Linked DNA regions of Homo sapiens. The protein of the gene in region 1 purifies or fractionates together with the protein of each later gene. This does not show direct contact. Each region holds a gene or a part of one and is shown in the gene's direction. Other genes may lie near its edges.

The links.
Region 2: the proteins of SNRPD3 (region 1) and CDC5L purify together in Homo sapiens (affinity purification with mass spectrometry; 3 studies listed by BioGRID and IntAct, with this or other methods). This does not show direct contact.
Region 3: the proteins of SNRPD3 (region 1) and SF3B1 fractionate together in Homo sapiens (co-fractionation; 4 studies listed by BioGRID and IntAct, with this or other methods). This does not show direct contact.
Region 4: the proteins of SNRPD3 (region 1) and SF3A2 purify together in Homo sapiens (affinity purification with mass spectrometry; 4 studies listed by BioGRID and IntAct, with this or other methods). This does not show direct contact.
Region 5: the proteins of SNRPD3 (region 1) and SNRNP70 purify together in Homo sapiens (affinity purification with mass spectrometry; 7 studies listed by BioGRID and IntAct, with this or other methods). This does not show direct contact.
Region 6: the proteins of SNRPD3 (region 1) and SF3B3 fractionate together in Homo sapiens (co-fractionation; 2 studies listed by BioGRID). This does not show direct contact.
Region 7: the proteins of SNRPD3 (region 1) and SNRPA purify together in Homo sapiens (affinity purification with mass spectrometry; 3 studies listed by BioGRID and IntAct, with this or other methods). This does not show direct contact.

Annotation. Positions count from the first base shown.
Region 1 is NC_000022.11:24,558,999-24,562,498, forward strand, and holds part of SNRPD3 (small nuclear ribonucleoprotein Sm D3), read left to right. Parts: intron 1-3,500. UniProt on the Homo sapiens protein: Plays a role in pre-mRNA splicing as a core component of the spliceosomal U1, U2, U4 and U5 small nuclear ribonucleoproteins (snRNPs), the building blocks of the spliceosome.
Region 2 is NC_000006.12:44,390,706-44,394,205, forward strand, and holds part of CDC5L (cell division cycle 5-like protein), read left to right. Parts: intron 1-1,961; coding exon 1,962-2,123; intron 2,124-2,740; coding exon 2,741-2,868; intron 2,869-3,500.
Region 3 is NC_000002.12:197,393,529-197,397,028, reverse strand, and holds part of SF3B1 (splicing factor 3B subunit 1), read left to right. Parts: intron 1-700; coding exon 701-973; intron 974-3,500. UniProt on the Homo sapiens protein: Component of the 17S U2 SnRNP complex of the spliceosome, a large ribonucleoprotein complex that removes introns from transcribed pre-mRNAs.
Region 4 is NC_000019.10:2,243,324-2,246,823, forward strand, and holds part of SF3A2 (splicing factor 3A subunit 2), read left to right. Parts: intron 1-58; 5' UTR 59-95; coding exon 96-221; intron 222-1,220; coding exon 1,221-1,292; intron 1,293-1,409; coding exon 1,410-1,456; intron 1,457-2,122; coding exon 2,123-2,232; intron 2,233-3,429; coding exon 3,430-3,479; intron 3,480-3,500. UniProt on the Homo sapiens protein: Component of the 17S U2 SnRNP complex of the spliceosome, a large ribonucleoprotein complex that removes introns from transcribed pre-mRNAs.
Region 5 is NC_000019.10:49,102,451-49,105,777, forward strand, and holds part of SNRNP70 (U1 small nuclear ribonucleoprotein 70 kDa), read left to right. Parts: intron 1-976; exon of another isoform or gene 977-1,137; intron 1,138-2,183; coding exon 2,184-2,285; intron 2,286-3,327. UniProt on the Homo sapiens protein: Component of the spliceosomal U1 snRNP, which is essential for recognition of the pre-mRNA 5' splice-site and the subsequent assembly of the spliceosome. SNRNP70 binds to the loop I region of U1-snRNA.
Region 6 is NC_000016.10:70,561,816-70,565,315, forward strand, and holds part of SF3B3 (splicing factor 3B subunit 3), read left to right. Parts: intron 1-2,060; coding exon 2,061-2,235; intron 2,236-3,249; coding exon 3,250-3,455; intron 3,456-3,500. UniProt on the Homo sapiens protein: Component of the 17S U2 SnRNP complex of the spliceosome, a large ribonucleoprotein complex that removes introns from transcribed pre-mRNAs.
Region 7 is NC_000019.10:40,763,546-40,765,889, forward strand, and holds the end of SNRPA (U1 small nuclear ribonucleoprotein A), read left to right. Parts: intron 1-41; coding exon 42-130; intron 131-1,462; coding exon 1,463-1,622; 3' UTR 1,623-1,844; downstream 1,845-2,344. UniProt on the Homo sapiens protein: Component of the spliceosomal U1 snRNP, which is essential for recognition of the pre-mRNA 5' splice-site and the subsequent assembly of the spliceosome. U1 snRNP is the first snRNP to interact with pre-mRNA.

The DNA of each region.
Region 1 (3,500 bases):
CCAGGACTTTTACAAAGATCAGATGAGCTGTATGTGTGCCATAGCTGCTCAGTGCCTCACATACTGTGAGTGTTCAACATATGATACCTATTGCTTTTTTCCAGATGAGAAGGTCAGAGAGGTAAAGCACCTTACACCGCGGTCAGGCATCCTGACCATCCATTGGTTTGCAGGGTTCATTTATTTGTGATTTTTCTGTAGCTTTGAGCGTCTGTCATCTTCCTGCGAGGTTGACAAGCTTGGTCAGTTCCCTGAATGCAGAGAAGTAGACCTCTGGTGACTCAGGTTTATTGCATTACTGTCAATAGATCAGTTTATCTATTGAGGGTAGATAAGTTTATCATCTCTCATATATCCAGTCCTCTGGCTTAAGGCATGCTCATCCACTTTAAGGTTCTTTAATTTGGTGAGGAGAATGCAAGACTTGGGTTAGTGAAGCTTAATGGGTTTGTTCAATTAGCTGTATGTATTTGGACAACTTGCTGGGTTTCCAGGGCCTTTGTCATCCCATCCGTAACGTGAAGGTGTCTAACCAGATAACCTTGGTAGCCATTCAGAGATGCAGTCAACATGACACAAAGTGCACAGACCTTGGTGTCCGACAGACCTGGAATCAGCTTGTAGCCTGCCCCCTAGGGTGACTTGGGGCGAGCTTAGCTTTGGACCTCCTTCATCCTCTGGTCCCTCCTCTAAATCAGGGATAAAAATAGCACCTTGGCCTCAGAAGGAACCATGCCTGACCAATGGTGGGGGACAGCCACCTGCCTCCCTGCTTGTATTTGTATGCTAGTGCTACCATAACAAAGTTTCACAGACTGGGCAGCTTAGACAACACAAATTTATTTTCTCATAGTTCTGAAGGCTGGAAGTCTGAGATCAAGGTGTTGGCAAGGCTGGTTTCTTCTGAGGAATGTGAAGGAAGGATCTGTTTCAGGCCTCTCTCCTTGCTTATATATGGCTCTCTTCCTGTGTCTTCACTTGGTCTTCCCTCTGTAGTGTTTCTGTCCAGATTCTTCTTATAAGGATACCATGCATGTAGGATTAGGGCCCACTCTAATGACTTCATCTTAACATAATTATGTTTATAAAGAATTTTTTTTTTTTTTTTTTTGAGATGGAGCCTTGCTCTGTCACCCAGGCTGCAGTCTTGCTCTGTCACCCAGGCTGGAGTGCAGTGGCGCGATCTTGGCTCACTGCAACCTCTGCCTTCCAGGTTCAAGCGATTCTCCTGCCTCAGCCTCCTGAGTAGCTGGGACTACAGGCATCTGCCACCATGCCCAGCTAATTTTTGTATTTTTATATTTTTAGTAGAGACAGGTTTCACCATATTGGCCAGGCTGGTCTCGAACTCCTGACCTTGTGATCTGCTCGCCTCGACCTCCCAAAGTGCTGGGATTACAGATGTGAGCCACCATGCCCAGCTTGCTTGCTTTTTTTTTTTTTTTTTTTTTTTTTTTTTTTTTTTTTTGAGAGTCTCACTCTGTCGCCCAGGCTGGAGTGCAGTGGCATGATCTCAGCTCACTGCAACCTCTGCCTCCTGGGTTCAAGCACTTCTCATGCCTCAGCCTCCTGAGTAGCTGGGACTATGCCCAGCTAGTTTTTCGTATTTTTAGTAGAGATAGGGTTTCCCCATGTTGCCCAGGCTGGTCTCAAACTCCTGAGTTTGCCTCAGCCTCCCAAGTGCTAGGATTACAGGCGTGAGCCACTGCACCTGGCCTTTTTTTTTTTTTTTTTTTTTTTTTTTTTTGAGACAGAATCTTGCTCTGTTGTCCAGGCTGGAGTACAGTGGCACAATCTCAGCTCACTGCAAACCTCCGTCTTCCCGGGTTTAAGCAACTCTCTTGCCTCAGCCTCCTGAGTAGCTGGGGTTATAGGCATGGGCCACCGTACCCCACTAATGTTAATATTTTTTGTATTTTTAATAGAGATGGAGGCTCATCATGTTGCCCAGGCTGGTCTCTAACTCCTGAGCTGAGGCAATCTGCCCACCTTGGCCTCCCAAAGTGCTAGGATTACAGGCATGAGCCACTGCACCCAGCCTTTTTTTTCTTTTCCTTTTTCTTTTCTTTTTTTTTTTTTTTTTTTTTTTTTGAGATTAAGCTTTGGTCTGTTGACCAGGCTGGGGTGCAGTGGTTTGATCATAGCTCATGGGCAGCCTTGGACTTCTGGGCTCAAGAGATCTTTTCACCTCAGTCTTCTAAGTATCCAGGACTACCAGTGTGCCCCACCATACCTGGCTAATTTTTAAATTTTTTTGTAGAGACGGAGTCTTGATATGTTTTTCAGGCCAGTTTCAAACTCCTGGCCACAAGTGATCCTGCTGCCTCAGTCTCTCAAACTCCTGGAATTACAGGCATGAGCCACCACATCTGGCCTGTAAAGATTTTTTGTCTCTAAATATGATCACATTCTGAGGTGCTGGGTATTAGGACTTCAACAATGAATTTTTTTGAGGGATACAATTTAGCCTGTAACAGGATGTAGAGGCCTCACTGGGTCTATCAAAACCTAGGCACATTGAATAAGAGCCAGCAGACTGTGGCGTAGCTAAAGCTGGTGGTGGGTGAACTCTGAGCACAGTTTAGTTTGTTCAGCACATCTCAGGCTGTGAGGCTTGCCTGTCCTTCCCAGATCCAGTCATTCTGCCTTTTGGGAATGAGAACATCCTCTTAGCACTTTTCCTTGCTTGTTCAATAACATTTTCTGTTATAAAAGTGGGGTGGGACAAAATGTGGTGGCTACTCCTATAATCCCAACACTTTGAGAGGCTGAGGCAGGAGGATCACTTGAGCCCAGGGGTTCAAGACCAACCTGGGCAACATGACAAGACTTTGTCTGTAAAAAAAATAAAATAGACGGATGTGGTGGCACATGCCTGTAGTCCCAGCCATTCAGGTGGAGGCTGAGTTGGGACGATTACTTGAGCCCAGGAAGTCAAGGCTGCAGTGAGCTATGGAGTGCCACTGCACTCCAGCCTGGGCGACGGAGTGAGACCTAGTCTCACACACACACAAAAGCACACCACAACGATTCGGAAAAGATAAATAGAGGATCTCACTCTGTTGCCCAGGCTAGTCTTGCACTCCTGGACTTAAGCGATCCTCCCACCTTGGCCTCCCAAAGTATTGGAATTACAGGCCTAAGCCACACCTGCCCTGTTTTGGGGTTTTAGTATTTACTTTTTATTCTATCCTCTTTCAGAAATAGTTAGACCCTGTCTCTTCTGAAAAGCAAAAAAGTTTAAAAATTATCTGGATGTGGGGCTGGGCACTGTGGCTCACGCCTGTAATCCCAGCACTTTGGGAGGCTGAGGCGGGCAGATCACGAGGTCAGGAGATTGAGACCAGCCTGGCTAACACGGTGAAACCCTGTCTCTACTAAAAAAAATACAAAAAATTAGCCAGGTGTGGTGGCGGGCGCCTGTAGTCCCAGCTACTCGGGAGGCTGAGGCAGGAGAATGGCGTGAACCCAGGAGGCAGAGCTTGCAATGAGCCAAGATC
Region 2 (3,500 bases), on another chromosome or scaffold:
ATGAGCCCCAGCTTGTAAATTAATTGTGTTCTAAAAGTGCATAAGTTAGCTGTTTTAGAAATTACTTGCTCAAAGAAATAAATGATAAATAATGGCTAATTTTCTAAGTAAGCCTACAGTAGTTGAGTTTCCTCATAATACAGTTGAAATATTATATATTTTATAGTTAATATGTTATATATTATATATTAAACATACTTAATGTTATATATTATATATTAAACATATTTAATATGTTATATATTATATATTAAACATATTTAATATGTTATATATTATATATTAAACATATTTAATATGTTATATATTATATATTAAACATATTTAATATGTTATATATTATATATTAAACATATTTAATATGTTATATATTATATATTAAACATTTAATATGTTATATATTATATATTAAACATATTTAATATGTTATATATTATATATTAAACATATTTAATATGTTATATATTGTATATATTAAACATATTTAATATGTTATATATATTAAAAGATATAAGCCAACTCTGAACCTGTGGTGTCACCTCTTTTTTATTTTTATTTTTTGGGACGGAGTCTTGCTCTGTCGCCCAGGCTGGAGTGCAGTGGCGTGATCTCAGCTCACTGCAAGCTTTGCCTCCCGGGTTCACGCCATTCTTCTGCCATAGCCTCCTGAGTAGCTGGGACTACAGGCTCCTGCCACCATTCCCGGCTAATTTTTTGTATTTTTAGTAGAGACGGAGTTTCGCCGTGTTAGCCAGGATGGTCTTGATCTCCTGACCTCGTGATCCATCCACCTCGGCCTCCCAGAGTGCTGGGATTACAGGCGTGAGCCACCGCGCCCGGCTGGTGTCACCTCTTAAATCATAGGGTAGTGGACACGTGAAGCTATTTAGGGTGTTCTTGGCATGAGTTATTTAGCACCATCCCCAAGTCATGTGGCATTAGGAAAATACTTTGGATTGTATAAGAATGACCTAATTTCCTAGGCACCTGGTTAGGGGAAAGTATCAGAATGTAGAAATTGGCCAGGCGTGGTGGCTCACATCTGTAAGCCTAGCACTTCGGGAGGCCAAGGCTGGGATCACCTGAGGTCAGGAGTTTGAGACCAGCCTGGCCAACATGGTGAAAACCCCGTCTCTTCTAAAAGTACAAAAATTAGCCAGGCGTGGTGGCTACTTGGGAGGCTGAGGTGGGAGGATCGGTTGAACCCAGGAGGTGGAGGTTGTAGTGAGCTGAGATGCTGCCACTGCACTCCAGCCTGGGCGACAGAGTGAGGCTTTTTGAATGTAGAAATTGGCTGTTAAGAGGAAGATGATTTTTAGGCTGAAGAAGTCGTTCTGATTTCTGTTTGTCTTAGTGGTACCAGTTCCTGCTGTCATATTTGGTAGGACTTAAGTCCTGTTTGCCTGCCTGTCATCCAGCTAAGTAGACTGGATGGAAAAGGTGGGCTGGGTGGGGAATTAGGAAAGACAGAGGGAATGTCATAGTAGTTTTACTTAAATTTTAAAACATATCAAATGAAAGGTTACGGTGAATTTAGTGAGTGTAAGTCAAATGCTTAAAGAAATAAGCCATGGTGTGAGAATCAAAGCATGAGAAAATAGTATGAAAACTGGAAACACTGTAAGAAACGTGATTTTGTATTGTCTTCCAAATATTTCAAAATTTCTAGAAAAGCGTAAATAAATAAAAACATGATAGATGAGAAAGAAGGCTTATGATCATGATTCAGTGAAGTAACCTTTTTTAACCATTACTAATCTTGCATAATTAAAATAAAATAGAATGTGATGAGATGGGGAATATTGACTGGGGTAAGTGTAACCACACAGCAAATATTCTGTTGTCAAAAAGAACAGTTTTTGTAATTGAAGGATGAGAGCACAAGTCAGTGTATCCATTGTGCAAATTGGATATTTATGCCAGGTAACTGATTAATATATAAAATGATCTATGTTTAATAGGTATGAATGGCTGGATCCAAGCATTAAGAAGACAGAATGGTCCAGAGAAGAAGAGGAAAAACTCTTGCACTTGGCCAAGTTGATGCCAACTCAGTGGAGGACCATTGCTCCAATCATTGGAAGAACAGCGGCCCAGTGCTTAGAACACTATGAATTTCTTCTGTAAGTGAGTCTTCAGAAAGAGCATAGAATATATGTATATGTTCTGAAAGAGGCTGAATAAACTTTGAGTATTTTCTGTCTTTAAACTTTTAATTATGGATGTGAGTAAACCCAAAGCTAAAGCCATTGGATAATATTTTCCATATCTCAGATGGTTGATCAAAATTATGCCTTCTGTCATATACTTCCTAAAATAATAATTTAAAAGAATTATACAAGTCATGCATGTTCATCATAGAAAATCTGGGGAAAAAATAGTAAAAGAGCAAATAAAAGTCACCCATAATCACACTGCTAAGAATTAACTACTGGAACATTTTGGTTCTTTACTAATAGTTTTTTTTTTTTTTTTTTTTTTTTTAAATTTGTATGGCTGTACCGCATTTGTGATTAGGATCTGTTTGGGTTCTATTTTAGAGTGATTGAAACCAGTCACTGAAATCAGCAAATTTTAATATCATTTCTTTCAGATGAAGTGATAGTAAAAAGGCTTTATGTTGTTAAAGCCCATCCATTGGTTTTTTTGGGGGGAAAAATATCGTCAGAACTTGGAAATCTGGTAATTTTAACTCTAAATGGTACTGTAGTGTGACTAACTCCTATGGGCTTTTTTCTAGGGATAAAGCTGCCCAAAGAGACAATGAAGAGGAAACAACAGATGATCCACGAAAACTTAAACCTGGAGAAATAGATCCAAATCCAGAAACAAAACCAGCGCGGCCTGATCCAATTGATATGGATGAGGGTAAGTGTATGCTTTGAGGAATTTATTTCTTTGGTAACTGTAAACTCCTTGGGCCTCACTCTTTTAGTTCCTTTCTGAACTCCTCTACTTTAGAATCCCTTTTTTTTTTGAGACAAGGTCTTGCTCTGTTACCCAGGCTGGAATGAAGTGGCACAATCATGGTTCACTGCGGTTTTGACCTCCTGGGCTTAAGCAATCCTCCCATCTCAGCCTCCTGAGTAGTTGGGACTACAGGTTTATGCCGCCATACCTGGCTAATTTTTAAATTTTTTTGTAGAGATGGGGTCTCCCTGTGTTACCCAGGCTGGTCTCAAACTCCTGGGCTTAAGCTATCCTCCCTTTTCTGCCTCCAAAAGTGTTGAGATTATAGGTGTGAGCCACCATACCTGATCCCCAATTCTGTCAGCAGTGTTCTTATTCTAAGTATCTTTCCAAATATGTCCAGTGTTTTCTGTTATAGAGTAGTTGCTTTTTCTGAACAGCGCCCCTTCATCTTCTGTTTCTTCAATTCAGTTAATTAAGTTAATTAAGTGTTACGGGGTGTGGTGGTATGTGCCTGTAGTGCTAGCTGCTAAGGAAGTTGAGGTGGGTCGATCTCTTTAGCCCAGGAGTTGGAGGCCAGTCTGGGCAAC
Region 3 (3,500 bases), on another chromosome or scaffold:
TGGCTTAAGAAAATGTTTTCAAGGAATATGACATGTGAATGTCTGATTAATTAGGTAGAATTATACCAGACAACACCCCCTCCCCTAACACATACTCATTCCTCTCCTATTTTGGTAGCATAATATTTATTTCAGTGGTGATGGAGTCAAGACATTTGCAAGAATAGCTTTTGTGCAAGCTTTTAGCCCCAATGTCCCTCTAAGTTTATGTCAAAGAAGAGGCAAATAGATGCAGCAAATTGTGTGGAGGAAAGATAAAAGGAAAAGAGATTTTATATGGTTTATAATGGGAGACTACAATTCGGATATTCCCCTCACCACTCCTACCTAGTTCTAGTGCCCATTTTGACAACTCAGAGAATTACTCACTTTAAACATTTAGTTAAATTTCTTTATATTTCAGAAAGTTTAAGAACTGAAAATTACATTTGAAAATTGAGTTAACTTAAAATGTTTAGAATTTGTACAGCTATGACCTCTGATCTTCTCAGAGTCAACTTTTTTAAACTGACCTTTTAATTTATATGAAATTTTTATATAGAAACAACAATGCCAGTGACTTGAAAGTATTGCATTTTATAAAATTACTGAGTTCCCTGTAATTATTAATACTTAAAAGTTTTCATCTTTATGCATTTTTTTCTTCCATAAATTTTTGACTTATAATGTAACAGCTTGTTGACCCATTTGTTTTTTTCAGCCCTCATGATGTATTGGCTACACTTCTGAACAACCTCAAAGTTCAAGAAAGGCAGAACAGAGTTTGTACCACTGTAGCAATAGCTATTGTTGCAGAAACATGTTCACCCTTTACAGTACTCCCTGCCTTAATGAATGAATACAGAGTTCCTGAACTGAATGTTCAAAATGGAGTGTTAAAATCGCTTTCCTTCTTGTTTGAATATATTGGTGAAATGGGAAAAGACTACATTTATGCCGTAACACCGTTACTTGAAGATGCTTTAATGGATAGGTAAGTGACTTGAACTAAATACAAGAAAATAATTATAACTCTTCCTTCATTTTAGAACATCGTGAAATAGTTATTAGATGACTTTTTACTGTAACATAGTTAAAGAAAAAATTGCTAGCCTGGAGTCTTAGGACATTGTAAATATGACTTATTATTTTAAAATAATGTGCACGCTGTAGTGATTCCCCAGACTTTCTTTCAAGTTCTCCCATCCCCTTTAAATCTCTTTTCTTATCTATTGAATTAAATAAATTTTGAAAAGGGTTGATTGATAATCTTTTGTTTTCAAAATTGGTCAAATATAGTTAGAGGACATGATGAGCAGAAGCTAATGGGCAGAGACCTGATCTTTTTAGCTTTTTGTTGCAGGTAAAGGACAGGTTTCTCTTAAGCCTTTGAATTACTGAACAATAGCCTGCCAGAACTACACTCTTCCTGTTGCAGGTCCCTGGTGTTTCAGATGGTGACCACCAGTAGAGTACTGTTCAAGTTATTTGACAGATTGCTAATACCTTTTACCATCTAGACTGACGTACAGCCTTAAACACAGAAGTAACTGAAGAAAGTGCAAAGGAAAGTGCAAGCGTAGTAAGGGAAAGAACTGTTTCACTGGCTCTTTATTTTTCAGGAGAGATAAGTTACTCAAATCAGAGCCCATTCAAATACTTTTGTGTACAGATTTAAGTTATTCATTAATAACCTTCTGAAAGGGAGACTTAACTGGACTCGACAAGTTACCAGAACGTATATATGCAAGACATGGAGACAAAGTAAGAATTGTGCTCTGTAAAAGCCTGGCTGCCCAGGGCTAAAAAAAATGAGGGTAAATCACCCTTGCTCTGTATTCCTTAGTGAGAAGTGCCTGAGCACCATAGTGCAGTCATTAATGTATGTCACCTGCAGTTAAAAACTTTTTTCTGTGTACTAAGAAGTTAAGGGAGTAATTCCATTGAAAATTACTAAATGAAAAGAATACTTCAGTTGGAAATTTTATTAATGAGGAATACTGCTTCATTCTTATGCTGAATGACATTATTAAAATAAATAGGAAAAACAAGAATATTAGTAAATACAAGTATTTTTCTCTTTTCTCTTTGATATGGTCTGTGTTACTATCTTTGGAGCAAAGTGTGGAAACTCATTTTTTTTTTTGGACGGAGTTTTGCTGTGTCACCCAGTCTGGAGTGCAGTGGCATGATCTCGGCATACTGCAACCTCTGCCTCCCAGGTTCAAGTGATTCTTCTGCCTCAGCCTCCCAAGTAGCTGGGACTACAGGCGTGTGCCACCATGGCCGGCTAATTTTTTGTATTTTTGGCAAAGATAGGGTTTCACCGTGTTAGCCAGGATGGTCTCCATCTCCTGACCTCGTGATCTACCCGCCTTGGCATCCCAAAGTGCTGGGATTACAGGCGTGAGCCACCGTGCCCGGCCTGGAAACTCATTTTCATACCCATTGCAAATCCCATTGTGTTAGCCAGCGAGCTCATACTTGGTTGAATAATTGTGGAATGAATAACTCATTGATTTTTCATGAACATAAATTCAGTTAACATAGGAGATGATAGTTATTTCTGTAGGTTTGAAAAAATTATTGATCTTTTGTTCCTCTCCCCAAATTGAGTTATTGAATGAAACTTAAACTTTACGTGAGAAGGGAATTTAACTTTAATTTAGTTACCTATTATATACCAGTATCTGAAGTACTAGTAAAGATTTAAGTTTATAATCAAGAGTTTAAAATGATTTGGGAGGCCAAGGTGGGAGGATCGCTTGACCCCAGGAGCTCAAGACCAGCTTGGGCAACATAGCGAGGCCTTCCCTATCTCTAACAATAACAATAAAAAAGAAAAATAATTTTTCTTTTTTTTTTGAGACAGAGTTTCACTCTTGTTGCCTAGGCTGGAGTGCAGTGGCACAATCTCGACTCACTGCAACCTCCACCCCCCAGGTTCAAGTGATTCTCCTGCCTCAGCCTCCTGAGTAGCTGGGATTACAGGCGTGTGCCAAAATGCCCTACTAATTTTTGTATGTTTAGTAGAGACGGGGTTTCACCACGCTGGCCAGGCTGGTCTTGACCTCCTGACCTCAGGTGATCCATCTGCCTCGGCCTCCCAAAGCGCTAGGATTACAGACATGAGCCACCATGTCCGGCCTGAAAAATAATTTTAAAAAAGAGAAAAAAGTTTAAAATATTACTGTTTATTATTCATATGTTAGAACCACATGCCTCCTCTTTAGTAGCATAATAAAGCCAAGACTTCACAGAGCCCTCCTGCTCATATTCCTTTTAAAAGTTAATTAGATGGCCAGGCACGGTGGCTCACGCCTGTAATCCCTGTACTTTGGGAGGCTGAGGCGGGCAGATCACAAGGTCAAGAGATCGAGACCATCCTGGCCAACATGGTGAAACCCTGTCTCTACTAAAAATACAAAAATTAGGCAGGCGTGGTGGCACACACCTGTAATTCCAGCTACTCAGGAGGCTGAGGCAGGCGAATTGCTTGAACCTGGGAGGCAGAGGTTGCA
Region 4 (3,500 bases), on another chromosome or scaffold:
CCCAGCAGCAGCCCCGAGTTCTGAGCCATCTTCCTCACTCTCCTCTTGGCCTCCACAGGTGTCTCCCAGTCTGCTAAAGCCCTAAGGCCATCACCATGGACTTCCAGCATCGCCCCGGGGGCAAGACCGGGAGCGGGGGCGTGGCCTCCTCCTCCGAGAGCAACCGTGACCGCAGGGAGCGCCTCCGGCAGCTGGCCCTGGAGACCATCGACATCAACAAGGTGGGCCAGCCACCGTGCAGCTGCCTGTGGTGGGTGCTGGGCTTTCCAGGGCAGCCCTGGAGAGGGTGCCAGAGGCTCTTCTTGGGCCTCCGCCCAGGCTGGGCGATGCAGCCCCGTGTCCAGACGCTCCCCTGTTGCCCCCGAGCAGCCACAGCTCCCATCTGTCCACCCCAGAGAGCAGACCCTCTGTGGCTCTGAGTCCCATGTGGACATGTTTTGTTCTGTCCACAGCCTTCTGTTTTGCATTATTTAATTTTCTGGGAGTGGGGAGAGCTGATGTCAGTCCAGCCAGATGTGGTGAAGGGCAGCCTTTGATTTTAGCTTGTGCAGAGGCAGGGGTGAGCCGAGTCCCCTCAGCACCGTGGACATCGGGGCTGGAGCACTCTTTGTGTACCCTGACATGCCCCACGGGCCTGGCCTATGGCAAGGGCTCTGTTACCGTCCCCGTCTTCCAGATGAGGTCATGGGTAGAGGGGGTGCCACAGCCGCAGATGGTGGAGTTAGACTTTGAACTCCAGCGTCTGAGACGAGATGTGTGCGCCCGGCTGCCCCAGCTTAGGGCCTGCAGATGGGCGGGTCTTTGGGTCTTCAGTGTAGCCCATTTGCTTTTCTTGTGCCTGTGTCTGCCTTGTGCCTACTGCTGGCGTGGTGGCGTGGGCAGTGGACGGCTCCCTGCCTCGGGAGTGACCGGCGGTGCTGTCCTGGCTGTGCCTCCCTCTGACTCAGAACCACCAGGAAGGTGGTGTCGGGGGCTCCCTGGGAACCCCCACTGCTCGAAGCCTGGCCCACAGCCCCAGGTGGTGACACCCGTGCTCACGAAGGCCTCCCGCTGGATCCCCCGTTTTCAGAAATGCTTGACCACTGTCAGCGGTAGCCATGCCTCTACAGAAGGGGGGTTCTGCCTCCATGCCTCTACAGAAAGGGGATCCCGCCTCTGAGGGCCTTGACGGCAGCAGGCCGCGATCTTCTGTCTAACGGGCCCCTGTTCTTCCCCTCCAGGACCCGTACTTCATGAAGAACCACCTGGGCTCCTATGAATGCAAACTCTGCCTGACACTTCACAACAATGAGGTGCGGCCTCTGCCTGGCTCCGGGCGGCTCGCGGCGGGCTGAGTGGCTGACGTCAGGGGGACCTGCCTGTGTCTGTCCGCCCGGCCTCGAGTCATGCGTGTTTCCTTTCCACTCCAGGGGAGCTACCTGGCACATACGCAGGGGAAGAAGCACCAGACCAACCTGTGAGTACCTCATGTCCCTTTGATGCCTGGTGCTCCAGCAGCCGTTGGCTCAAGTCTCTGTGAGCCTCGCGGGCCACTGCTCCACAGCCGGGGAGCCAGCCTGGCCTGAGCCTCCCTGGGCGCTTGAGTACGGTTCCTGGGGAGCATTAGAGAACAGAGGCATGGATGGCTGAGGCGGGCAGATCACTTGAGGTCAGGAGTTCGAGACCAGCCTGGCCAACATTGTGAAACTCCATCTCTACTAAAAATACAAAAATTAGGCCAGGCATGGTGGCACACGTCTGTAATCACAGCTACTATGGAGGCTGAGGCAGGAGAATCTTGAATCTGGGAGGCAGAGATTGCAGTGAACCAAGGTGCTGCCACTGTACTCCATCCTGGGCGACAGAGTGAGACTCTTGTCTTATTAAAAAAAAAAAAAAAGAGCAGAGGCATGGAGTTGTTGGAAGGGCCCCAGCCAGGGACAGTGAGGAGCATGACAGGAAGAGAACATGCCTGTCCTATCCCTGTCCTCAGCCAAACCCCAGGGCCCCTCCCAGGCCCCTGGCCCTCCTCATCTCTCAGCTTGTAGTGAGCTCCAAGGTCAGGGGGCTCCTGGCACCTGGGCCCATGGCTTTGGTGCCTGTGTGTGGAGGGGTCCCAGCAGCACCTCCATCCTGTCCGCAGGGCCCGGCGAGCAGCCAAGGAGGCCAAGGAGGCCCCTGCCCAGCCCGCGCCTGAGAAGGTCAAGGTGGAGGTGAAGAAGTTTGTGAAGATCGGCCGCCCGGGCTACAAAGGTGAGTCTGCCCGCAGCGGGGCCGGCCACAGCCGCTGCCGTGACATAAGTGTGTTCTTTAGTCTCCAGTGCGGGAGGTGCAGCCCTGATAGCCTCCTCCCTGAGCCACTGTTTTCCGGCCTTGGTGGCCGTCCCTCACCCACCTGCAGCCTCTGGCGTTGTGTCTGGGAGCTGTCAGGCTGGGCCCGATAAGCACCCATCTCACCCAGCAGCCCATTTCCCAGCTGAGCCACAGTCTGTGCCCTCCTGTCCGGGTCTTGTGGAAGCTTCTGGGAATTCTTGCCAAGCAAAAGAGTGGAAGTGGAGGTGTGGTGAGCCCTGGCACATCCCTCCGGTTAACCTTGAAGCCTTTGAAGGAGGACAGGGAGAAGCGGCTGTTAGAGGCAGCTCCTCCCGGACCCTCAGCAGTGGGAATGGCTAGAGGTGACCCCGGTTCAGAAAGCTGGGGAAGTGACCAGGGTGGAAGATAGAGACTTGTGTCCATAGGGTTCAGGAAGGCGGGCACGCTACCCAGCAAGTGTTCTTTACAGAAGGCGGGGACAGCCTGTGTGCCTGGCCTCCAGACAGAAGCCTGCAGGGCAGAGGTCCCGGGGCAGGTGCACCGGGTGGGCGAGGGTGGCTAGAGCGGCAGGCTCCTGGTGGGGAGGCCCTGACAGGTCCTGGGCTTGGGCTCAGGACGGTGAGGCGGCAGAGGGCTTGTGAGTGTGCGTGTCTGAGGCCGCATGGAGAGTGGCCGGGCGGCAGGCAGCCCAGCAGCCATTCTCGGGGTCCAGGCTGCTGAGCTCTGGCGGGAAGGGCATCCTCTCTCGCTCACCGTATACATGGTGTCAGCCCTGTTCAGGCGGCCCCGCTCGAATCCCAGAGCCAGGGTGCCGAGGGCCCCTCCCTACCCAGTGGCCCCAACTCCTGCTGGGTGGTATCCCAGCACCCCTGGTGAAGGGCTCTGGGGATTGGGACAAAGGAGCACCATCCTCGGTCCCTGCCTGAGTGACTCCGCAGGTAGCTCAGCTCTGGCGCACCTGTGCCTTCACCTATACCAGAATCCCAGAGCCTGGGCGGAGATTGTCTAATGGTTGCCAGAGCTGCAGGGCCTCCCCCGGGGTCCCGCTCTCGTTCAGTGGGTGGCATTAGCCTGCCCCAGGTTCCTCAGCTTCGGAGAGGACAAGCAGCCGGGACCTGAGAGCTTTCTGTGTTGCAGTGACCAAGCAGAGAGACTCGGAGATGGGCCAGCAGAGCCTCCTCTTCCAGGTGAGATCAGGGACTTGGGCG
Region 5 (3,327 bases), on another chromosome or scaffold:
GACCCGGCTTCGTGATGTCAGCGGCGAGGTGGCAGGAACACCGAGGGCAGGGCTCCAGGCCAGGGCTCCACTGGAGCCCTTCAGCCTTCCCTCCCTGCCCCCGTGCTTTCTATGGGGCTGCTACTGTGCTGGCCCTGGAGAGTCTTTTTGGCTGCTAGTTTTGGGGTGCTCTGCCCCCTTTCTGTCTTCCTTACTGTGGTTGAGGCCTCCCGAGGGGGCTGGCTGTGGTGTCCAGCAGCTCTCCAGAGGTGGTCAGGAGCTCCCTAAAGTGCATGGAATTGGGGCTTGGGGTGTGGGAGGGACCAAGGGGTAGGCTGCTAGCAGCTGAAGGTGTCGTAGGTTTTTACTAAAGAACCTTCCACTGTCTAGAGACTTGAGAGAGGGAAAGAGAGAGAGAGGCCTAGACGAACACAATCACATGTTTTCTTTGCTGTTCCTCCCGGGATGGGCCTGTTTTGGGGTTTGGGACTCTGAACCCGAGCGGGGTTCCTTCGCTTGACTTTGATCCTGGTCCTTAAATGCCTTTCCCCACTCCCCTCCCGTGGGTTCAGGGGCCAAGCGGCCCCTCCTCAGAGCACGGGCAGCACCGTCTCCTGGACCCCTGTGTGCCAGCCTCTGCAGACGCAGCTGGTGGGAGGGAGCATGGATTTGGAGGTGGAGAAGTCACTCCTGGTCCTCGGAGGGGGTGGGCTGTGTGCCTAGTTCAGTGTGACTCGGGGATTGGTGAGGGCGGACAGGTTTCTGAGGCCTCCCTAGCCTTCTTTGTAAATTCACACGAGATAGTCCAGGGCTTTCCAGCGCCCAGCTTGGATGATAATCCTCGTCTCCCCCACTCTAAGGCCTCCTTGAGATTTCTTTGGGGTCTACCACGTCCTCTGCCTGTCTCCAGGTGGTACAGGAGATGTGGTTCCTCTCCCTCTCCTGGCTCCCTAGAACCCCCCACTTCCCCTCCCTGTAGCTTTAGCTGACCCCGTGGTGGTGGGTGTGGGGTCTGTGCGCGTGCTCAGGTAAGCTTGGGGGCTCCAGGTAAGCGGTCCCGTGTCCCCCCCCCGGGAAGCCCGCCTCCTCGCCAGGCCCCCAGGAGTTGCCGAGCCCCCCCCATCCCGCTCGGTTTGGACACCCGCAAGGCCGGCATCGGTAAATGGCACCTTTTTCTCTTCCTCTGGTTGTTATTTGGGGGGGAGCGGGCTGGGGCGGGGCAGGGTATTACGGTTGGTTGAGGACAGCCCCCTAGGCCAGGGCTGGGTGGGGGAACGGGGACTTTTTGGCCTTCATGACAGCCCCACGTTGATCACAGGCCAGGGCCTCAGGCTTGCCTTCTGCTACGCGCTGCCCGAGAGCAGCAGTGAGCCTCTCCCCCGTCTCCCCTCTACGACTCCCCTTTCCTGGCAGGCTCAGGCTGGGGTGCGCTCCCAGCACGTGTTGAGCCGGGGGTGTGGAGGGCGAGATGGGGCAGGGCTGGGGGGAGGCAGAGTCAGTCGTCTCAGGTAAGGCAGGGATTTTCAGTAGCACCGCACGGCTCCCCATGCTTCCTCCACTGCCCCTCTCCCCTGCTGCAGGGGCCCCGCCAGGCCCCCTGGGAGTGTATAACCCGCCTCTCTGCTCCCTGCCATTTCCTGAAGATTTCTCCCACCCCCTTCTGGTTCATTTTCTGTTCTGATGTCTGTTCCCCCCACACTCACCCCCCTCCAAAAAAAACAAAAACAGAAAAAACCGGTGTGGTCTGGGGTGCGGAGCGTCCCAGCTGGGCCTCCTGCCCCGGCTTGGTGTCTCAGGGTGCATGCTTGGGGTTGTGGAGGAGCCCCCTCCCCCACAGCAGAGTCCAGCGTGGAGTTAACCTTCAGTTTCTTTGCAGCGATTTTGGCCGCCCTGGCGGGAGGGGGCTGTTCCATCATGTGGGAGAGGAAGGGCCGGGGAGCCTAGGGGGTGGCGGGTGAGGGTGGACGTCTCCCCCGACCAGGAGTGGTTGGGGCGCTGAGAGGAAGCAGACGCTGAGATGGAGCAGGCCCTTCACCGGTTTGGGAGAGGGTTGGTCTGGCTGTCAGTTGCCTGGCTGTCTGTTGGGCGTGTGCGTGTGCGTGATGATGGGGACACGGGGCGGGGATTCTGTAGAGCTGGGCCTGTCCTGACTAGAGGACCCTCTGGGGACTCCTCTCCCCTCCCCCTCCCCACATCTGTTACAGCCGCTTACAAACACGCAGATGGCAAGAAGATTGATGGCAGGAGGGTCCTTGTGGACGTGGAGAGGGGCCGAACCGTGAAGGGCTGGAGGCCCCGGCGGCTAGGTGAGCACATCCTGCCTTCGACGGGCTCTCGGGGGCCCTGGGCCTGGTGGCCTTGTTCTCCCTTCTCTGCTGCTTTCTGCTTCTCTGTCTCCTGCCGGCCCACCTCTCCCATCGCGTCCTCATCTCCGGCTTCTCTCTCTTGTGGCCATCACATTTCTGACAGCTGCCTGCCTCCTCGTTCTGGGTTACTGTGAGGAGCAGGGGCACCAGCCTGGAGAGGCCTGAGCCCACATGCTGGCGTCCGCCCTTGCTAGCTGGGGGTCCCCTTTTCCTGCCTCATTGTACTCCTCTTAGTGGAAATAACCCCGAGTTCACTGAGCTCAGTGTACTGGGCGCCCAGCTTGGCAGTGACGCATGCTGGGGTTGTAAATGTCACTCGCTCATCTGCTTCTGCTGCTTGCTGTTGCTCTTGTTCACTCTTTTACTGATTCAGCAAGTACCTATTGGATCACCAGCTGTGTGCCGGGCTTCTAGTTGAGCAACACAGAGGCAGCCTCTGCCCTCTGAGCCTCCTGCATTCGGTCTCCTCATTGTCATTTGCTGTCTCAGGCAAGGTCAGTTTGGCTGCAAGTATCAGAAATAAACTTGAGCTTCCTGAAACATAAAGGGCCCTGTTGATGTAGAATCATGGGCATCCTTTGGAGTTCGGAGGTATGTGATGTCCGTGGACCTGAGAACCTGGTAGCTGACGCTGTTAAGAGCTGGGGCAACCAGGCCAGGCGTGGTGGCTCGCCTGTAATCCCAGCACTTTGGGAGGCCGAGGCGGGTGGATCATGAGGTCAGGAGTTCGAGACCAGCCTGGCCAAGATGTTGAAACCGCATCTCTACTAAAAATACAAAAATTAACTGGGCGTGGTGGCGGGTGCCTGTAATCCCATCTACTCGGGAGGCTGAGGCAGAGAATTGCTTAAACCTGGGAGGCAGAGGTTGCAGTGAGCCAAGATAGAGTCACTGCATTCCATCCAGCCTGGGTGCCAGAGCAAGACTCTGTCTCAAAAAAAAAAACAAAAAACAAAAAAACTGGGGCGACCCACCTGTGATG
Region 6 (3,500 bases), on another chromosome or scaffold:
GAAGCCTTTCTGCCAAGGGCTCAGACTGGTTCTGCCAGAGTGTTGGAGGAGGCTGTGAAGAGGTGGCAGAGAGCCGACTTCACCATGAAGCTTGTGTGTTGCAATTGAAACCTTCATTTGGCTCAGCATTTTAGTACCTGAGAGCCAAGTTTCGGTGTTTTAGCTTCTGTTAAGATTTTCAAGGCCAAGCTTTAATACAGTCCAATCTTCCTGAGATTTCAGATTTTTGTTTTCTAGCAAAAGGGTATTGCCATTGGATTAGTTTTAGAGCAAGTATTGGATCACTGCATTGATAACCTTTCTTACTCTGTCTTGTCATTTGCGGTATTAAATCTTAAATGTTAACCTATCTATAAGTTATTTAGACCTTTTTCAAGTTGACAAAACTGTTCTTCCTGGTAATATTGATGTGAAGTTTGAGCACTGTATGTAATATTCTTTGCAAGATGGAAAAGAACCTAAAATAATTCAGTCAGTTTGGCTTCCTCAGGTTTTGGGGGGCTTTTAAAATTAAGCCACCAAAGTTGTTCACATCCTGGTTATAACTATTGGCTGTTCATAATGAAACTATGGCCTCTTGATAGATTAATCACTATTGCTTATCAAATGAGCTCCCAAAATTTCTTTGCAACAACTTTCAGGGTCTTTTCATGGTCATTGTCCTTTTTCTTTCCGTCATCTTTGTATTTATCTTCTGCTCCAGCAGAATTGATCTCCCTGCACTGCTCTACATCACTTAATATTTTTTTAATCTCTACCTGTGCTAGAATGCTTCACCCACATACATACCTGCCTGTCAGTGTTCCCCTTGTCTTTTAAGCCAGCCTTGTTGTAGCCTCATCTGTGGCCCCTACCTCCTGAATTGCTATAGATTTAGACAATCGCTACAGATTTTTAGGCTTTCCTAGCAGCAGAACTTACTTCCCCCCAAAACTAAATCAGGGAAGGTGACTTATGAGACATAAAAGCAGAGTTCTTGGCAGGCAGTTTATTTTTTTATTTAATTATTTTTATTTTTAAGTTTTTTTTTTGAGACAAGGTCTTACTCTGTTGTACAGGTTGGAGTGCAGTGGTGTGATCATGGCTCACTGCAGCCCCAACTTCCTGGGCTCAAGCTATTTCTGCCTCAACCTCCCAAGTACCTGGTGGGACTGTAGGCGCATGCCATCATGCCTGGCTAATTTTTGTGTTCTATTTTATAGAGACAGGATTTCACCTTGGTGCCCAGGCTGGTCTTGAGCTCCTGGGCTCAAGAGATTCTCCCACCTCAGCCTCCCAAGTAGCTGGGACTACAGGCGTGCGCCACCATACATGGCTTTTTTTTTGGTATTTTCAACAGAGTTGGTGTTTCACCATGTTACCCAGGCTTGTCTTGAACTCCTAGCCTTAGGTGATCTGCCTGCTTTGGCCTCCCAAAGTGCTGAGATTACAGGCGTGAGCCACCACACGCAGCCCCTATCTTTTTTAATGTAGAGAATAAACTACAAATAAAACTCCATCATTAGAGATCGGGTAACTATACTTTTCAGAGTACCTGGGTTCTGCTCATTTTGCACATAGTTTGGCTTATGTGTACATCTCTGTCCCATTTGACAGAAATTTGTAGGTCCCTTATTTGCTGTCTCTTGCATTGTCATAGTTTTCCTGAACTGAGGTGATTTTTGTTCACAAAGGTATCCACTTTATTTTATGAAGCACAGTCACTACAAATACCATATATGTTTAGGTAATTGCAGTGTTTCACAACAAATTTGGGATTGGGCTCTTTATTATCATTGGAGTGATTAAAAAAAAACTTTTGACAATCGTTTGTGTTTCATTGGTAGGAACTAGAACTGCTGTGAATTGTGGTAGGGTGTTGCCAAATGGGAAGGCCCTTCCTGGATCTCTGTGTCTGCATCGCAGAGTTTTCTAGAGTAGGAGGCTGTTGTTTAATGTTGCCTAATGCCAACGTTAGAGCTCCAGGGATTGACGTGTTTGCTGACTGCTCAAAGTCTATTTCAACACCAGTTTCTGGGTCCGAGTGAGTATTAAATAACTGCCTTGCTTTTTTGTCATAGGATTTTGGCATTAGAGAAGCTCGGTGCTGTCTTCAATCAAGTAGCCTTCCCACTGCAGTACACACCCAGGAAATTTGTCATCCACCCTGAGAGTAACAACCTTATTATCATTGAAACGGACCACAATGCCTACACTGAGGCCACGAAAGCTCAGAGAAAGCAGCAGATGGCAGAGGTAATGAGACTAACGTTCAGGGGTTCTATTAAAAGATGTGTGAAATTATGTTGAAAAGTTTAAACTGCCCGGCACTTTGGGAGGCTGAGGTGGGAGGATTGCTTGAGGCCACTAGTTCGAGACCAGCCTGGGCAACATAGCAAAACTGCACCTCTATTAAAAATTTTAAAAGATAGCCTGGTGTGTTGGTGCACTCCTGTAGTCCCAGCTACTTGGGAGGCTGAGGCAGGAGGATCACTTGAGCCCAGGAGTTCAAGACTGCAGTGAGCCATGATCATGCCACTGCATACCAGTGGCACTCTGGACACGAGACTCTATCAAAAGTTTAAACTCCTGTAATTGTTAGTATATTCTTTGTTTTTAAAGATCTAGGCTTTTTTCAGCTTTTTTAAGCAGAGGCCTTTGCCCCAAAGTACTTCATTTTAGAGCCTTTCTTGTAACCCAGGACTATACTCTGACCTCCATTTATTCACAATTAAGTTCCCTCTCTGAAACAGAATTCTCCCGTCCTTGAGCTTCCAAAATAGACTGTATTTCCTTTATTTGGGCCCAAAAGAGACAGCTTTCATGTTCTCCACAACACCAGCTCTTTCTAGAACTCATTGCCTAGCAGAAACCAAATAGCTACAACCACGTAGAACTGTATCCATCCTTAAAGAGTGGAGACAGAGTAGTTTTAGTAAGGGAAATCAGATGGGTTGGATAGAAAAGTGGAGTTTCCGTTGTCATTTTTCTCAAGCCACTAGTCCAATATTTGTCACAGCTATTGTTATTTTTGGTGTTTTCTACTAATATGTAACCAGCAATGTCTGGATTTCCCTTTCTGATCTTCTGTCTTCCCTAGTCTGTACACCTCTCCCTTTAATAGTCATGTCGGGAAATCCTGGCTGGGATGGCTGACTTTGCTGCTTTATGTATTGAGAACCCCCTGGAGTGTTCTTGCTACCTATCCTCTTCTCAGCCAGCCCCTACCTCTGAGCACGCCAACTCAGTTACTCGTTTTTTTGGGTTTAGGAAATGGTGGAAGCAGCAGGGGAGGATGAGCGGGAGCTGGCCGCAGAGATGGCAGCAGCATTCCTCAATGAAAACCTCCCTGAATCCATCTTTGGAGCTCCCAAGGCTGGCAATGGGCAGTGGGCCTCTGTGATCCGAGTGATGAATCCCATTCAAGGGAACACACTGGACCTTGTCCAGCTGGAACAGAATGAGGCAGCTTTTAGGTAAGCAGCCCAGGACAGTCCAGGGTTTGGCAGGCTGGAACAGGA
Region 7 (2,344 bases), on another chromosome or scaffold:
TCAGGGCTCTTGTGCTCACCGACTCCCCTATACCCCCGCAGCTTTCTGAGAATCCACCGAATCACATCTTGTTCCTCACCAACCTGCCAGAGGAGACCAACGAGCTCATGCTGTCCATGCTTTTCAATCAGTAAGTGGGGCCTGTGGCTGGGTGGTCCCTGGAGGGTGATGGCCAGGAGGCATCTCCATGGAAACAGGCCTCAGAACTCTGCCAGCAGAGCTCTGAGCCAAGTAGGGCTTTGCAGAAGGGACAGCGACCAAAGATGTGAAAGGAGGAGGCTGTGGCTGGGCCCACGGCCTGTGGGGGACATGGGGGTGAGGCTGGAAAGGTCTCCATGGCCAGGGCTTGCCGGCTTTTTTCAGCCTTGTTTGAGGGCTGAGGGAGTCCAGGCTCTGGGCCTCATTTTCCCAGCCCCTAAAATGGGGGCATGCAAGGCAAGGTATGTGTAAAACTGCATTGAGATGTCCTTGAACATTGGCTAAGACTGGCAGAAGTCAGCGTGCTCAGAAACAGCAAGTGTGGGAGATGGGGATGCGTGAAACTCTTGTGCCTGGCGTCAGGGTGGAGGCCGGTGCAGCCGATGTGTAGAGGGGCTGTTCACCATTGTTGAGTGAAGTCGTGGGTGTGGGTGAGTTCATCTGGTGGTTCTGTTTCAGGGGCTGTGAGTGGGGCATTCGTCAGTGTTTGTGGTGGGGAGTTGGAGGGTGTCTGGGAGAAGGGATGGCTACATGCAGCATCTCACCATGCTGCACTGCGTGGCACTTAGAAGAACAGAAAGCGCAACTTTATAATAGTGCCGAGAGAAGATTGTGAGAACCTGAAAAATACAGAAAAACAATACCACATGTGCAGCCTGTCCACAAAGCTGTATATTTTGTGAGAATGCCGATGGAAAAAAGGATACCTAGTAAACATGAGGATGGCTGCTTAATGGAGAAAGAAGTATGGAATGAGAAGAGGGAAATTAGAGAAACAGCATATCAGAAAAGTGAGGGTAAGGCCGGGTGCGGTGGCTCACGCCTAAAATCCCAGTATGTTGGGAGGCTGAGGCAGGTGGATCACTTGAGGTCAGGAGTTCGAGGCCAATGTGGGCAACTTGGTGAAACCCCTTCTCTCCTAAAAATACAAGAATAAAAATGGAAAAAGTGAGGGTATTGGTTATTTTTTTGGTGTGGCGGGTGGGTTATGATTTAGGAAGGGCCCAGGAGACTGCGGTGTACTGTTTCTTGATTTAGGTTGCAGTTGCATGGGTGTTTGTGTTTAAATTTTTCATTAAATGCTATGTTTACATTAGAGTTTTTCAACTTAGTACTATCTGCATTTTGGGCTGGATAATTCTGAGTAATGGGGCCCTGCCCTGTGCATTGGAGGCTATTTGGCATCATTTCTGGCCTCTGTCCACTTGATGCCGTTACGTTAGGGGGAAATGCTGAGTCCCTGAGGTCTGTCGTTCTCTTTCAGGTTCCCTGGCTTCAAGGAGGTCCGTCTGGTACCCGGGCGGCATGACATCGCCTTCGTGGAGTTTGACAATGAGGTACAGGCAGGGGCAGCTCGCGATGCCCTGCAGGGCTTTAAGATCACGCAGAACAACGCCATGAAGATCTCCTTTGCCAAGAAGTAGCACCTTTTCCCCCCATGCCTGCCCCTTCCCCTGTTCTGGGGCCACCCCTTTCCCCCTTGGCTCAGCCCCCTGAAGGTAAGTCCCCCCTTGGGGGCCTTCTTGGAGCCGTGTGTGAGTGAGTGGTCGCCACACAGCATTGTACCCAGAGTCTGTCCCCAGACATTGCACCTGGCGCTGTTAGGCCGGAATTAAAGTGGCTTTTTGAGGTTTGGTTTTTCACAATCATTTGTCTGTCTGATTTTCTTGCTCTTCATGGTTCCTTTCCCTCCACCTCAGCAGCACATCCTGGGTTTTTGGACCTCTTGGCATTTTGAGGTTTGCAACCTTGGGGAAACATAGGATAGTGTAGTAATATTGTTCAAACTCAGGTTACAATGACTACTTTGGCAGTTTTGTATGTTGTCCCAATTCACAGCAGGAAATGGAATCCTGGGTCAGGAAATGGAAAGTCAGGGCTGCCGCGTACAGTTAGGCAGGATGGGTACTGCACAAGAATGGCACCTTTTAAGGGCACACCATTCACTTTGTAGGCTTACAAGTTTATGCCACCACTTTTCTAACAGATGACAAGAGTGTTCAGGGAGAGGTGTTTCTTCACCTTTTTTTTACTCTTCTCAAAAGTGCAGCCTGTTGTAGCAATGGCCCCAGAGAAACCACAGTAGGTAGTTCAAACAGAAAGGAATTTAATACAGGAAACTTGGTGCTGCTGAAATCATGGGGCG